2 separate regions of the Homo sapiens genome follow, and region 2 is linked to region 1. The links come from fine-mapping of genetic effects on gene expression. A gene starts in region 1. The other region holds a variant in brackets. All regions are shown on one strand. Distances are from middle to middle.

Region 1 (5,516 bases):
ACTCTACAAAACAAATGGCCAACATGGTGAAACCCTGTCTCTACTAAAAATACAAAAAATTGGCTAGGCGTGTCAAAGGAGTTACAAAAAGGAAAATGGAGACCAGACATGGTGGTTCACATCTCTAACCCAGCACTTTGGGATGCTGAGGGAGGAGGATCACTTGAGGCCAGGAGTTCGAGACCAGTCTGGCCAACATGGTGAAACCCCCCTCCCCCCGTCTCTACTAAAATTACAAAAAATCAGCTGGGCACGATGGCATTTGTCTGTAATCTCAGCTTCTCAGGAGGCTGACGCAGGAGAATCGCTTGAGCCTGCGAGGTGGAGGTTGCAGTGAGCTGAGATCACAGCACTGCACTCCAGCATGGGTGACAGAGCAGGACTCCGTCTCAAAAAAAAAAAAAGAGCAAATGGGAATTCTATTGTTGCTACATTTTAAAGTCTTAAATTCAAAATGAAAAGTAAAGAAAAAAATTTAAAAGAACATTAGGTATGCAGGGAGCAGGGAGGATATAGGCCTTTCAGTCCATCTCCAAGGCACGCAGTAAATTACTCCTATGGCAAATACTGGAGACCAGGTTACTTTGGTAGGGGTGAGGGTGGTGGTGGGGTGGTTCTGAAGTTTCAGAAGAAGGAAAGAAAAGCATGTCCTGAAAAACAAGAAGGATTTCAGAGAAATAAGAATAAAACCTGATGTACTTGAACTTGGCACCTTTCTTGGAGAAGGGTTAAGAGCAAGGAATCATGAACAACCAGGTCATTTTTGAACCACCATCCTCCTTACCTACCATATAGGGAAGTGTGGTCACAGAACACCAGGCATCTGCCTAAATCCAGTGTCACTCAGAAGGCTGAGGTCACTCCTGTCCAGGGCCAGAATCTGTCCTAACTTCAAAGGTTCTGCATGGGTCAAGCACTAGAGTCACTGGCACACTTGGTGCTGCACATACAGTCAGTGTCACACAAACATAACCACACATCCACTCTTTTATTTTTTTGAGACAGGGTCTCGCTCTGTCACCTAGACTGGAATGCAGTGGTTCAAACACGGCTCACTGCAGCCTTGACCTCTCAAGCTCGAGATCCTCCCACCTCAGCTTCCCGGGTAGCTGGGACCACAGGTGTGGGCCACCACACTCAGATAATTTTTAATTTTTTGTTTGTTTGTTTTTGAGACGAAGTCTCGCTCTTGTCCCCCAGGCTGGAGTGCGATGGCGCGATCTCGGCTCACTGCAACCTCTGCCTCCTGGGTTCAAGCGATTCTCCTGCCTCAGCCCCCTGAGCAGCTGGGATTACAGGCACCTGCCACCACGCCCAGCTAATTTTTGTATTTTTAGTAGAGACAGGGTTTTATCGTGTTGGCCAGGCTGGTCTAGAACTCCTGACCTCAGGTGATCCACCCGCCTCGGCCTCCCAAAGTGCTGGGATTACAGGTGTGAGCCACCGTGCCAGCCATTAATTTTTTTTTTTTTTTTTTGTACAGGCCAGGCTGGTCTCGAACTCCTGGGCTCAAGTGATCCTCCCACCTCGGCCTCCCAAAGGGCTGATGTGAGCCACCACACCCGGCCCTACATCCACTCCTGAGACACAGGACACAATCACAGACACCTCTATACCTTTCCAGTCACAATATCTTTCCAGTCACAATCACACACCCGCTAAGACACACCCAGTCACACAATCTACTCTCCACTGTGATACAGTTACTCCCGTATAGTCACAAGCCCCACACACCAACACCCACAAATGCCTCATATAGTCACAGTCACACACCCACTCAGGGGACACACGCCATCACTGGTACTTTACGGCACCCAGTCACAACTGAACTTTCACTGTGGACATACACACAGTCACACTCACACAAGCAACCCACACAAGCAGTGGCACCCCACTCCCGCATACACAGCACCACACACATACACACAAACACACACACCAAGGGATACAGGAATACACAAGCGGCGTCACCACACAGTCACAGGCACAGGCAATTGCACACGGCCACAGTGTCACACAACCAAAACCACGCACACACCTTGGAGACATGAATCACAACCGCACACCCGCAGTGGTCACACAGTCACAACTGTACTCACACCCCAGGAACAGGGCGAACAGGCCACATATACAACGGGGACACACGCAGTATCACCCCCGGTCACAAGGACCCTGCACCCCGATACTCTCTATCACACATGGTTACACAAAAACCACCAGACACCCTGGAGACAGGCGGTTACACGTGCACAGTTGCAGACACCCACACCCAGCCACACAGCCACAAAGACACATTCAGAACGGCGCATCCGCAGCCAGCTCCCGCCTGCGCGCACAGATTCGAGGCTCCGGACACGCCCCGGCCCCGCCCAGGACTCCCAGACCCCTCACCTTCTGCCTCCCCTGGTCGCGTCCGGGTCCTTGCGGAGCTAACTAGCTCGCCACGACGTCAAGAACGACGTAACGTCAGGCCGCTGTGGGCTCTGGGAATTGTAGTCCAGAGCTAGATCGGCCACGGACAGAATGGCGTTCTCTTATCTCTGAGTCGGGGCCTGGCTCGTTTTGACATTTTTGCGCCCACGAGTCTTCGGAGAGGGCGTCGCCACTCCAGACCTTCCAGCAAGCTTGAAGTCATCTGACGCTAAAGGACTACTTACCTCAAGAGCTCCATCGTCACAGAAGGAGGCGGCCAAGTTCGCGGGGGGAGGGGAGGAGACAGAGAGTCGACCAGTAAAGCCTCAAGGGAAATGTAGTCCAAGGCCTGAGAAGCGACGTTGCTGGTAATAGAAGGTAATTCAGTACCAGCCTGGGCCTGGCCGCGGTGACCGAGGCGGGCCGCGTCGCGGAGACTTCTGGGAGTGCTTCCTCGCTCTCCGAGTGCGCAAGCGCAGCGCACCGAGTGGACATTTTGGTCTTTGTCCGCGGGTCAGTACGGCCCCTGGGTCCACGTGGCGCGAAAGTAGGAGGTGGGATCTGGGCGTCTCGGGTCGGTCGGACCGGGGAGGTTAAAGGGGAGGATTCCTGATCTTTAGGGGCGCGGCGCGAGGGCAGGGAGTGGGTGTAAGAGCTTCTGGCCTACGTGCGGGGCGGAGATGGGGGCCTCTGAGGCGGGTTTGAGCGAGTGTGACCGAGTTTGTCCTCAAAGTTTGACCTGATGTTTGGGATTGTTGAGTGAATGTGAAACTGGGTGCGGGATTGTGTGTGATTGTGCCTAAGAGGGAGATGTAGGAGACCAGCATTGAGGTATAACGTTTGAGCTGCACTTCCCTTGTCGAAAGTGCTGATAATTATAACGGTGCCATCTTCCTGGAGCGTCTTTTTTACTTGAAAATTGAAGGGGTGGAAAAGCTAAGTGGTGAATAATTTTAAAACGAGTTTTTATATAAAAGCATTTCTTTTTAATTGGAGTGGCATGCAAATCACCGTGACTTTTTTTTTTAATTAAACGAGAGTGTTTCGAAGGAACTTTAGTTTCGGGGTGCCTACTTCAGACTATTCAAATCCCCATCTTTGGGGTACTTAAATAGGGCTGTTAAGCAAAGCCCTAGACTAAACAGCATTGTACGCTTTGAGAAGCAATCCCATATAACGGCGCCCAGGATGAGGGAGTCAACGGTTTTAGGTTAGGCACAGTTATCCTCATTTTTTGAAGAAAGCTTAATTGTTGCAGTGTTTATCTATGAGTCTGGACTAAATCCTAGGTGTCTTAATTCCTTAATGAGTCGAGGCGTTCTCAGGTTGTATGGATTTTGTGAAGTAATGGAGAATGCTACTGACGTCTCCAAAGATGCGTTTTCTAAGGAAATCACCCCGCCCCCGCTGTCGTCATTGACATAGTTTTAAATTACAAAAAGTTAAATAAAGTAATTGGGTACCAAGTTAATATCTATAAATAAATAGCCTTCTAATTTACAAATATCAGTTAGAATACATAGTTGAAGAAAACTAATATTTACAATAGCAGTAAAAAGATAAAGTATTGTGGAAGAAACTTAAAGGTTCAGAACTATTAGGAAAGAACTTTAAAATACTACTAAGGGGCATAACAAATGTGAACAAATAAATATACCATGTGACATTAAGAAGTGTGCGCAAACTTAAGTGAATGTATTAATTTACTGTGATCTTGGTCGGGTGCGGTGGCTCATGCCTGTAATCCTAGCACTTTGGGAGGCCGAGATGGGTGGATTACCTGAGATCAGGAGTTCGAGAGGAGCCTGGCCAACATGGTGAAACCCTGTCTCTACTAAAAAAAAATAAAATAAAAAAATACAAAAATTAGCCGGGCGTGGTGGCGGGCGCCTGTAATCTGAGCTACCGCGGAGGCTGAGGCAGGAAAATCGCTTGAACCTGGGAGGCGGAGGTTGCAGTGAGCCCAGATCTCGCCACTGCACTCCAGCCTGGACAAGAGCGAGATTCCGTCTCAATAATAGTAATAATGTGATCCTAATAAAAGTATGGACAGGCTTTTCTCTTTTGGAACTAGGGGAACTGATCCTAGACTTACTATGGAAAGAGACAAGCTGCAAGAGCCAGTACAGACTGAGAAAGAAAAGGCGTTGAGGTGTGGGGAGATGGGGACCCAACACATTTTAAATATAAAGCCTCAGGCCGGGCTTGGTGGCTCACACCTGTGAGCCAAGGCAGGAGGATGGCTAGAGTCCAGGAGTTAGAGACCAGCTTGGGCGACATAGTGAGATCTCCCGTAGTCCTAGCTGCTTGGGAGGCTGAGGTGGGAGGATCACTTGAGCCTAGGAGGTCAAGGCTGCAGTGAGCAGAGATCCTGGCGACAGCATTCCAGCTTGGTGGACAGCCAGTCCCTGTCTTTTTTTTTTTTTTTTTTTTTTTTTGAGATGGAGTCTCTCTCTCTTGCCCAGTCTAGAGTGCAGTGGCCCAATCTCTGCTCCCTGCAACCTCTGCCCCCCAGGTTCAAGCGATTCTCTTGGCTCAGCCTCCCGAGTAGCTGGGATTAGTTGCCTGCCACCACACCCGGCTACTTTTTTTGTATTTTTAGTAGAGACAGGGTTTTACCATGTTGGCCAGGCTGGTCTTGAACTCTTGACCTCAAGTGATCGGCCCGCCTCGGCTTCCCAAAGTGCTAGGATTACAGGCATGAACCACGGTGCCTGGCCGACCCTGTCTTAAGAAAGAAAGAAAGGAGAGAGAGAGAAGAAAGAAAAGAAAAACAGTTCATGCCCATCAGTGGGAGATTGGTGTACATCGATACAACAAAATAATACATAGCTGTACAAAAGAATGAGGAGGAAGCTCTTTATATACTGAGACAGAAATAACTTCAAAATGTATTGTTAACTGAGAGAAAGCAAGGTGCAGAATGTAGAGTATGATACACGATGCATTTGGAATAAGAAAAGGGGTAATAAGAATATGTATTTATAATCCCAGCACTTTGGGAGGCCAACGCAGGCGGATCACCTGAGGTCAGGAGTTTGAGACCAGCGTGACCAACATGGAGAAACCCCGTCTCTACTAAAAATACAAAATTAGCCAGGCGT
Region 2 (5,000 bases), 480 kb before region 1:
CATTGTGGAGCCGGGCAGGCACTGAAGACCCAGATGGTCAGGGCAGTGATGGAGAATACCAGGGGGCGGTGGGGGCCCGGAGGGGTACCTGCTGGAGCCGAGGTGTCAGGGAAGGCTTCCTGAAAGAGATGGCATTGGAGCAGAGCTGGGGAGGAAGAGTATTGCAGGCATGAGGAGCAGCATTTCGTATGTCCAAGCTGGCACAAGAGGGCCTGGCTTATTTGGTGGACTGAGAGAAATTCCACATAGAGAGGGAGTAGCGGGTGTCATGGCGAGTTCAGGCTGGTTTGTGGATGGGCCCCCGTTCAGCTGCCCTTGTTGGGCACATCAGCTGCTAACCCTGCCTGTCCACAGCGGAGTCCTTCCCAATGCGGTGTTGCCCCCATCCCTGGATCATGTCTATGCGCAGTGGAGACAGCAGGAACCAGAGACCCCAGAATCAGGGCAGCCTCCAGGGGATCCCTCAGCAGGTACTGGGAAGTGGGGGTCCAGAAGCCAGGGCCCTGTGTTGGTGGCCTGGCTCCGGGTCCTGATTCTTAGACCTCCCTTCACATTTCCTCTTCAGCATTCCAGGGCAAGGATCCGGCTGCCTTCTCACACCTGGAGGACCCCCGTCAGTGTGCACTCTGCCTCAAATACGGGGATGCAGACTCCAAGGTGAGGGCTGCTCTGTGACGCACCAGGTTGTGGGGCCTGTTCCCTGGCCTCCCCACATCATGCCACTCCTCTTCTGCCCCAGGAGGCGGGGCGGCTCTTGTACATCGGGCAGAACGAGTGGACACACGTCAACTGTGCCATCTGGTCGGCGGAAGTCTTCGAGGAGAACGACGGCTCCCTCAAGAATGTGCATGCTGCTGTGGCCCGAGGGAGGCAGATGGTGAGGGCGCGGGCGCAGAGAGGTGGACAGCTCTCTGGCTCTTGGGGAGGCCTCCTCCGGTGCAAACAGCTCTTACTTCACATTCCCTACCTGGCATCCTTTCACTGCCAGGCTGAGGTCTCTTGGTTGCCCTGGGACGTTGGTGCTGATGGCAGCTTTTTCCTATGTGGGCCCTCTGGCTGTAATCTGGGCCTGAAGTGTGGGAGTCTAAAAGTGAGAAGAGTGCCCATTGATTGAACCTGGGCTGCACGCTTTCCATGCTGGGTGGCGTTGAGCTCTCACTACATCCCCGTGAGGTTAGAATTCCCCCACTCCTCACAGTGGTGCCTGGGCCAGGTACAGAGAGACCTCAGGCACTCTCGGGCATTGGGGTGGTAGAGATTCCCACTGCGGGGGTATCTGTGAGGATGAAAATAACACAACCTCCGCCTGAAAACTGTGACAAAGATAATCACACTAATGCTATCAGCAAGTATTGTCATTCTTGCTTCAAAGAACCAGAGAGAGTTTGGTGTGCACCTGGGCCTGGATGCGGCTGGGGAGAGGCTGCGCCTAGGGAGAGCCTTTGCCGTGCCAGGCTAGACAGGGACCCATGCAGACTCAGTGACAGTGGTGCCTGGCGCCCAGCCCCAGCCCTGGCTTCTCCCCTGAGCTGCCCTCCCCTACGCAGCGCTGCGAGCTCTGCCTGAAGCCTGGCGCCACGGTGGGCTGCTGCCTGTCCTCCTGCCTCAGCAACTTCCACTTCATGTGTGCCCGGGCCAGCTACTGCATCTTCCAGGATGACAAGAAAGTCTTCTGCCAGAAACACACTGATCTCCTGGATGGCAAGGTGGGCCAGAACTGTGGGGTACACGGTTCCTTCCCCACCTCTCTTCCTGTTCACTTAGGGACCCCCGTGGCCCCCAGGCCTGGCCCTACTGCCTCTCAGTGTCTCCTCATCTGTTTTCCCAGAGGCCTTTAGGCCAAGCCCCTGACTGTTCAGACTTCCCTGGCATCCACCTCCCCCACCAATGCAGCCACCTCACTTTGCCACCCCCTCTTCCAGGAAATTGTGAACCCCGATGGTTTTGATGTTCTCCGCCGAGTCTATGTGGACTTCGAGGGCATCAACTTCAAGCGGAAGTTCTTGACGGGGCTTGAACCCGATGCCATCAACGTGCTCATTGGTAAGCTGCCTGCTCTCCGCCCTGTCCTCCTACCCTGTCCTGCCTGCCTCTCCTGACCTCCGCTTTGCACCACAGGTTCCATCCGCATTGACTCCCTGGGTACTCTGTCTGATCTCTCGGACTGCGAGGGACGGCTCTTCCCCATTGGCTACCAGTGAGCG[G/A]TCGGGGTGATCCATGGGGCCAGGGGACTCCATAGCTGGATCCCATTTCCCAAGCATCCTAACCGTCTTATCCCACATGCCAGGTGCTCCCGTCTGTACTGGAGCACAGTGGATGCTCGGAGGCGCTGCTGGTATCGGTGCCGAATTCTGGAGTATCGGCCATGGGGGCCGAGGGAAGAGCCAGCTCACCTGGAGGCTGCAGAGGAGAACCAGACCATTGTGCACAGCCCCGCCCCTTCCTCAGGTGTGGCTTTGGCTCTGTCTTCTTCCTGAATACCGCTCTCCCTAAACAAACCTACAGATCTCTGTTCCCCGCTCCCTTTTGGAAAGTCCAGGAGGCTTGCTTTTGCTTCAGTTGCTGTAATGTAACGGCAGCTCGCTTACTGCCATGCCTTGTGTGCCAGGGGCTGTGCCCGGCTTTTCATGGGAAGTGAGGTGGGGAGAGCGGCACGCTGCCTACTTGAGGTGGGGTACTGGCTTTTGGACGACTGCAGGGAGTAGAGTGCTTACAGCTCCCTAACTTGGGGCACTGTGCTCATGGAGCGCTCTCCAGTGTCGCCATACTACACCTTGAAGGGGACAGTGGCTGAACACAGTAACATGCTAGGGAAGCTGGAATTGGAACTGCATCTGCTCAGCTCCCAAACCGGCCCCCTTACAGCCACACTGGCTGTGGGATGTGGCTGAGAGCTGGATGGCACAGGGCAAAGAATGGGCTTGGAGATGGGGGAGAGGTTATTGTGGGCAGAGCAGGAGGCAGAAGAGATTTGGATGGTAGGAAGGGCTTTATTCCAGGTTGGAGCATGACAAGAAGTGGACAGAGGAGGAGGGTACACCCATCCCGTCTGGAAACCAGGGAGTTTTGGGTGGAGGAGGGAGATCAGTTTGCAGAGGTTGGGTGGAGCCAGGTAATGGAGAGCCTCCGGGCCGGGGCGGGCGGGAGCGTCTGATGTGGCTTGGATGCACCAGGCAAGTAAGAAAGTGGTAGGACTGGCCGTGCTGGAGGGAGGGCAGTTCCCCATGGCGTGCAAAGCCTGCAGCAGAGGCAGAGAGGAGATGGCAAGGAGCGAGTGGGGAGAGGCCCTGAAGGCCCCCTGGCCCAGGTGTGTGCAGGTTTTGCCAACTCCACGGTGGGTTTAGCCTGGGTGGTCACTGGAAACTGGGGCCTGTTGTGACTGGGTCAGGGTCGGGGACCTGGGAGGCATAGTGGCTCAGGATGAGAGCATGTGGGCAGGCTTTGACACAGAGCCCCTACCACCCCAATGCCATTTCTCGCCTCTTCAGAGCCCCCAGGTGGTGAGGACCCCCCACTGGACACAGATGTTCTTGTCCCTGGAGCTCCTGAGCGCCACTCGCCCATTCAGAACCTGGACCCTCCACTGCGGCCAGATTCAGGCAGCGCCCCTCCTCCAGCCCCCCGTTCTTTTTCGGGGGCTCGAATCAAAGTGCCCAACTACTCGCCATCCCGGAGGCCCTTGGGGGGTGTCTCCTTTGGCCCCCTGCCCTCCCCTGGTGAGCACCGGGCATGTGGGGGTTGGGGGTGGAGCCGCGGAGGTGGGAGCTGCTGGTAACACCAACCCTCCCCCCACAGGAAGTCCATCTTCACTGACCCACCACATCCCCACAGTGGGAGACCCGGACTTCCCAGCTCCCCCCAGACGTTCCCGTCGTCCCAGCCCTTTGGCTCCCAGGCCGCCTCCATCACGGTGGGCCTCCCCTCCTCTAAAAACCTCCCCTCAGCTCAGGGTGCCCCCTCCTACCTCAGTCGTCACAGCCCTCACACCTACCTCAGGGGAGCTGGCTCCCCCTGGCCCGGCCCCATCTCCACCACCCCCTGAAGACCTGGGCCCAGACTTCGAGGACATGGAGGTGGTGTCAGGACTGAGTGCTGCTGACCTGGACTTCGCGGCCAGCCTGCTGGGGACTGAGCCCTTCCAGGAAGAGATTGTAGCCGCTGGGGCCATGGGGAGCAGCCACGGGGGCCCGGGGGACAGCTCCGAGGAGGAGTCCAGCCCCACCTCCCGCTACATCCACTTCCCTGTGACTGTGGTGTCCGCCCCTGGTCTGGCCCCCAGCGCTACCCCTGGAGCCCCCCGCATTGAACAGCTGGACGGCGTGGACGACGGCACTGACAGTGAGGCTGAGGCGGTGCAGCAGCCTCGGGGCCAGGGCACGCCTCCTTCGGGGCCAGGAGTAGTCCGGGCAGGGGTCCTTGGGGCTGCAGGGGACAGGGCCCGGCCTCCTGAGGACCTGCCATCGGAAATTGTGGATTTTGTGTTGAAGAACCTAGGGGGTCCTGGGGATGGAGGTGCTGGCCCTAGAGAGGAGTCACTCCCCCCGGCGCCTCCCCTGGCTAATGGCAGCCAGCCCTCCCAAGGCCTGACCGCCAGCCCAGCTGACCCCACCCGCACATTTGCCTGGCTCCCAGGGGCCCCAGGGGTCCGGGTGTTAAGCCTTGGCCCTGCCCCTGAGCCCCCCAAACCCGCCACATCCAAAATCATACTTGTCAACAAGCTGGGGCAAGTATTTGTGAAGATGGCTGGGGAGGGTGAACCTGTCCCACCCCCAGTGAAGCAGCCACCTTTGCCCCCCACCATTTCCCCCACGGCTCCCACCTCCTGGACTCTGCCCCCAGGCCCCCTCCTCGGCGTGCTGCCCGTGGTCGGAGTGGTCCGCCCTGCCCCGCCCCCGCCACCCCCTCCCCTGACGCTGGTGCTGAGCAGTGGGCCAGCCAGCCCGCCCCGCCAGGCCATCCGCGTCAAGAGGGTGTCCACTTTCTCCGGCCGGTCCCCGCCA

The links. PIP is the estimated chance that this variant, and not a neighbour inherited with it, causes the effect.
Region 2: its variant is the best candidate, but not a certain one, in a credible set for the expression of ZNF565 in prostate (GTEx, PIP 0.57).

Annotation. Positions count from the first base shown.
Region 1 is chr19:36,212,231-36,217,746 of GRCh38, forward strand. ZNF565 (zinc finger protein 565) reads right to left here and starts at 2,435. Exons shown (of 5, transcript NM_152477.5): 1 at 2,392-2,435. It overlaps ZNF146 (zinc finger protein 146), which reads left to right and starts at 2,876. Exons shown (of 4, transcript NM_007145.3): 1 at 2,876-2,966. RefSeq lists enhancers at 2,390-2,819, 2,930-3,119.
Region 2 is chr19:35,728,420-35,733,419 of GRCh38, forward strand. It overlaps KMT2B (lysine methyltransferase 2B), which reads left to right. Exons shown (of 37, transcript NM_014727.3): 20 at 355-470; 21 at 566-657; 22 at 740-877; 23 at 1,548-1,706; 24 at 1,923-2,043; 25 at 2,119-2,197; 26 at 2,288-2,448; 27 at 3,489-3,716; 28 at 3,796-5,000. Among named protein-coding and RNA genes, the nearest start is that of IGFLR1, 12 kb to the right of the region's middle. The variant G/A (reference allele first, on the strand shown) is at 2,205.